Linked DNA regions of Homo sapiens: region 1 is linked to region 2. The links come from fine-mapping of genetic effects on gene expression. A gene starts in region 2. The other region holds a variant in brackets. All regions are shown on one strand. Distances are between the middles of the regions. Region 1 has its middle 27 kb from the start of ACSL3-AS1. Region 2 holds the start of ACSL3 (acyl-CoA synthetase long chain family member 3).

Region 1 (2,900 bases), 85 kb before region 2:
AATGAAGGTCTTCCTGAAGAAATCTCAACCCGCGTCTCTTGAGTATTTTCTAAGGTCAGATTCCTAGATGTGGAATTAGTGGGCAAACCATAGGAACTTTTTTAAGCCTCTGGTGCATCTCACTTTCCTACATGAGGTGAACTGCTGATGTGCTGAACAGGGTAAAAACAGATTTGGGTGGCTATTTTTGACCATGGCTACCAAAAAGCCATCTTTTCTTACATTTGTGGAAACGTTTAAAAGAATTCTAAGGCCGGGAGCGGTGGCTCACGCCTGTAATCCCAGCACTTTGGGAGGCCAAGGCGGGTGGATCACCTGAGGTCCGGAGTTCGAGAACAGCCTAGCTAACATGGTGAAATCCCGTCTCTACTAAAAATATAACATTAGCTGGGTGTGGTGGCAGGTGCCTGTAATCCCAGCTACTCAGGAGGCTGAGGCAGGAGAATCACTTGAACCGGGAGATGGAGGTTGTAGTGAGCTGAGATCGTACCACTGTACTCCAGTCTCGGCCACAGAGTGAGACACTGTCTCAAAAAAAAAAAAAAGAAAACAGAAAAAAAATTCTCGGAGTTCTTGCCCCAATGCTCTCAAGACATCCAAAACATTCAAACCAAGAGAGGACTGGAGTGAGGATGGCGTTAGTGCTAAGGCTGAGCAGAGAGGTATTATACAGGGCAGGCAGAGCATCTAGCAGAATAAGGGACTGTGCCCTGGCCACTCATGGAGGTCCTCAGATGGGGTGACTCACAGCGGGGTTGGGAGCTTTGAGGACAGCACATTGCTGGGTTGTTAGAGCTGGATGTTTTATATGTGAGCACCTTCCCACACAACACCATTCCTTTCCCGCCAGGCCTGAAGCCCCATCCTTCCAGGCCCCCATTAAAGGCATTAGGACTTTTAAGTCTTCAACATCCTCCTTTTCCCAGATTCCAGACAAGGGCCTTCTGAGCGATAACAGGGCCCAGAATATGGCCATGGGGTTGACAAAGTGGCAGGGCTAGGCAGCGCGTTGGAGCTATAGGCTTCTATACATAAACATTTTGAAAGTTGGGGCATCAAATTATTTGGACAACATAGTTGTTTTTCATTTCTATTTTGAGGAAAAATGTGGAATTTTGCCTTTATCACAGAACAAATCTTGCAAAGCTATGTTCTTCTGATAGCTATAATCTTTTTTCTTGGGAGTCAGGGGTGGGGAAGGCATACATACAGCCCTCCTAATAAACCCTCATCCTGTGCCACTCTCTTATACCTTTTGTATTCTTAATATGATTATGGTCATGAAGAAAAATCAAAGTGAATGATTTACTTCTACATGTTTCATGATAAAATACAAACCCTTTACAAAGAAATACTGATAGATATAAGCCACATAAACAAACATTCTGGAGTTCTCAATAATTTATTTCAGAACATAAAGAGGTCCTGAAACCAGAAAGTTTGAGAACTACTGCCTTAATCAACATGAGAAAAATCATACAGGTGAGAAATCCTGTGAACATAAAGTATCTAAAATCTCTAAAGACTGCTCCTCCTTTGTTCAACATGTGAGAGTTCATGTAAGTTAAAAAACCAAAAACCTACGAATATAAAGAAGGAGGGGAAATCTTAAGCAAAAAGCGTCGTTTAGTAACCAGTAAAGAATTAATACTGGAGAAACTCCACAAATGTGGTCAATGTGGAGAATTTTTCCCTTGTAGCTCGCCTGGATTAAACACGAAAGAACTCACACTGGGAAGAAACCTACAAAGGCAGACGGTGTGG[G/C]AAAACCTGTAGCTATAGCTCTTCGCTCTCTCAACATGAGAGGGTACATTCCAGAGAGAAAAACTGTAAGTGCACTAACATGGAAAAACTTTCAGCATCAAAACATTCATATGGGAGACAAACCTTGTTTCTATAAAAGTAATCCACGCAGAAAAGTCACTTTTTTATAGAACAAAAAACCCACACAGAACAACCTTTCTTCAGAAACAAATGAGAATGAATCTAAGAAAAAAATCACCAAATGCAGGAAGTTGCTTTTGAATGAATCCCACCAAAGGGAACACAATTCAAAATCACTAAATAAAGACACTAATGGGGAAGGGTTTGCTGAAAAGCATTTTGGAAAATCCAAACCAGAAATAGGCATGTAACATTAGAGGATACGTATGCACTGTTATAATAATTTCGTTAACACTTCAAATTCACTCAAAACCAGTTACTGAACACCTCCTCTGGGGGCCATGCATGCACCATGTTAAGGCATCTGGTTTACAGAGGCGATTCTGAAATGGACAGGCCCTTGCAGACTATATGCTTGCATGTGGACCAACTAATTAGGAGGAAATCAGAGGCAGATTTTATCAGATTGAAGATAATGTTATTACATAAATCAGACTATAGATCTGCATATAACCGGTTTCACGTTATGCCATAAAAACCATTCCATGACACTATAGACCAGCCTCATCCTAAAATCATTTGCATATTTGGTGTGGTAGAAATATTGTTACCAATGTTTAAAAGAATAACCTGAGCAAAGTTAATGAGGAGAAATTAGGCACAACTGTCTAAGTTAATGCAAAACACACAAAGATGCCAAATGTTTATGTAAAGAAAGCTTTAACTGGTTTTGTTACAGGATTACACACAGAGACAAAAGTATGCTATGATAAAGTTACATATACCCACAAATATTGACTGGCAGTCAAAGATGGGGTGGGTGAGGGAGGTTAGTTTCTGAAACACAGCATGATACAACTCTTCCTCCCACAATTATTGGATTAAATGTTGGCACAAAGTTTAGATATTTCTGCCACATTGTAGATTCTACCCCATTAATTTTGATGCCAAATTTCAATTTACCACCTCTATTCAAGATTTTATGCTGTATGAATATTTTGGAATTTAAAATGCTG
Region 2 (2,911 bases):
GAGCAACTCATCAGCACCCTTAACTCTCAGAACTAATTTGGGGAAACAAAATAGGTTGATAAACATGAAAGAAGGTATCATCAAACTACAACTCTCCTGGCCACCCAGACTAAAATCCACTGTGGAAACTATTCAGCCAGCCACCAAGGAGAGGCAGCAAAATATAGTGCTTAGATTTCAGAGCTCTGGATTTACACAGGCCTGTCTGAATCCCAGCTTCTTACTAGCTGAGATCTGAGGCAAGCTAAGTCGTCCAATCTGCAGTTTCTCCCGCTGTAAAATGGGAATAACCCCCACCCCAGAGGACTGTTAACAGTGTGAAGACACTGTACATAAAGCTCTCCAAACAGTGCGTGGCATGTAATAAAAGCTCAATAAATGTCAGCTATTTGTCATTCTTTTCAGCTATAATTTCGTTCACAAAGCCTACTGCCTTTCTAGCTTCCATATAATTTTAAAGACATTCCTCCAGCCTTTTCATTTTCGAGGGATCTTTTATACAGCAGCTTAGAGCACACTTTCTAGTATCAGACTTCCTGCGAAAACCATTTGAAAACCTGTGCCTCGGGCTCCTCATCTGTGAAACGAGCCTGATAACACCTACCCCACAGGACTGCTGGTAGTAAGCAGTCCCCGAGTTACCCAACCTATCAACAGTATATGATTAAAACGCACTTGGGGAAAAGCAAAGCTGCAACTCTCAAACCCCAAACGACAGTCTTAATCCCAGTCCCACCACCACGATAGTGCCCAGAACCAATCACCAAGGTCGACCCACCTCACGCACCTAGTTTCTTCTCACCCCACGCAGCAACAGCCCCTCCCGCCCCGCCAAACAAGGGTTTTCCGAAATCGCAGGGCTGAGTCTCCTTCCACGGACACCGCACTGCTGGGGCCGCGGCAGAGCCCTCTTAATTCAAGGGGGTGGCCTCCCCACCCCGCCCCACAGCGCCGGGAGGCACGCAGTGCATCCTCCCTGCCTGGTCAGCGCCGCCCCACGCCGTTCGCGCTGCAGCTCCCGGCTCGCGTGGGCTCAGGGCCGAGGCCCCACGTCAGCCGCTTCCCGGACCCCAGCGGGCCGCCTCCCACCCTGCTCGCCGCTGCTCCTGGTGCCGCGGGCCGCCCGCGCGCACACCCAGCGGTCAGGTGCGGCGCCGACGACAGGGTCCCAGGCCCCGAGGCTGGGGAGCCCCTCGGGCCCAGCCGAACCGCACGCGGAGGCCGCGCCGCCAACCGGCTCCCGCCGCTCCCACAACCGGCGCCGCACTCACCGCTACGCCGGAGTCCGGGTTCCTCCGGCCTCGGGCCCGCGCAGGCCTGGCTGAGCCCCAGAGCGTTCACGCCCCGCGCCGCCGCCCGGGGATCCTGGCGCAGCTGTCGGGGCCGCAATGCGAGGGGACGAACGTATGCGACCCCGTCCAACGCCTCCTCGTCCCGGCCCCGGCCGCGTAGACAACTGCAGTGTCGCAGCCCGGCGCAGCCACAGCAGCGTCTGTTGAGCGGAACCGCCTGGGACGCTCACCCCCGGCCGGCACTCGTTGCCTATGCAGAGAGGCTGCCACCCATTGGCCCGCGAGCGGTGGCGCGTGCGGGGCTGGGCCTATCGAATTCGGGCCGGGGAGCGCGGCGCTGGCGGCCCGGGGCGGGGCGAGGTTACTACGGGTCATTCCGCGGAGCCGCCGCGGACCGGACCTGGCTGCAGTCTGCGCGGGGCGGGGGCGGGAACGGGGTCGACCAGGAGGGACGGACCGCGGGTGGGGGAGGGGAGCGGGGATCTGCGGCAGCGACGTGGGAGGAGCGGCTAGCCCAATAGGGTCTGCAGGAGCTCCGTCCCTCCAGGAAAAAACACCCCTCCACCAAAAAAAAAAAAAAAAAAATTACAGTCGCACAATTATTGCTGTAATGTATAAATTTCAATATAAATTATGAAATAGTATGCATATTCTTTTTCGTTTTTAACTGGATTAGTTATCCCGTTCTTGCAGAAATTGCTGTCAAATCCTGCCAAATAAAATGGCTTTTGGAACTGCCTGGGGCAAGAAGAGCCTCAAAAACTCAAAGCTTATCCATTATCATTTCTCTTGTTTTGGCCTCACTTGACCTAGCATATAACCCGTTTTCCTCTAAATGCACTCACCATGCAAATTTGCTATTTCTTTTCAAAAAATAAAGTTTACTCCAAATTATTGTTTTTGAACGTTCTTAGGAATCCACAGTGGTTCTGTATTTTAAGGAGTTTGCCATTGTTTCTCGTTTTAGACACTAAACAAGGATAAGAAAGAAAGCATCCAGTGCAGGTAGTAGAACTACATGTACTGTAAGAGAGAAGATTTTCACTCACCCAGTACTAGTAGGATTGGTCTCTTTTTTTAACCCAACATATTGTTTAGTTTGCCTGTGAACTTTTCCTTAAGTAGGTGAAAGGTTGCCTTCCTGAGCCAGCCTCAGGCTAAAGCAGGCCTCATTTCCCAAGAGAATCAAAATCAGGAAGCCGCCAGAACTTGAACTAGGTGGAGCGATGATGCACCAAGCAAAGAGAGCTCACTCACCGTGGGCCAAGGGCCAATCGAGAACCTAAAGGGATGGATACCTGACTCAGGCAAACTGTTCTCCCACTTCAAAATATGGCAGTTCAGTTGCTCATTAATCTGTTGAAATCTTATCAAAGGATACATCCTGAAGATAAATGGAATGCAGAATTTCTTATCTGAAAAGACATTCGCAGCTCTGCAGAGAGAAGCAGGCTTTAGAAGTAGTACTTCTAGAACCATGAAATCCTCTGGAAAATACTGGTTTTTTTCCGAGAGAAGAAAACTAATATTGCACCTTTTTATCTATCCATAAGCCTAAAACAGACTAGAAGAATTCCAACAATATCTTTCTTCATTATCTTTATATTATGGAATATATA

What was found. PIP is the estimated chance that this variant, and not a neighbour inherited with it, causes the effect. A credible set is the group of variants that fine-mapping cannot tell apart.
Region 1: its variant is the best candidate, but not a certain one, in a credible set for the expression of ACSL3 in whole blood (INTERVAL, PIP 0.74).

What each region holds. Positions count from the first base shown.
Region 1 is chr2:222,944,930-222,947,829 of GRCh38, reverse strand. It overlaps the pseudogene LOC100419511. Among named protein-coding and RNA genes, the nearest start is that of ACSL3-AS1, 27 kb to the right of the region's middle. The variant G/C (reference allele first, on the strand shown) is at 1,765.
Region 2 is chr2:222,859,619-222,862,529 of GRCh38, reverse strand. It overlaps ACSL3 (acyl-CoA synthetase long chain family member 3), which reads right to left and starts at 1,494. Exons shown (of 17, transcript NM_004457.5): 1 at 1,272-1,494. RefSeq lists silencers at 999-1,368, 1,439-1,768 and an enhancer at 1,485-1,779.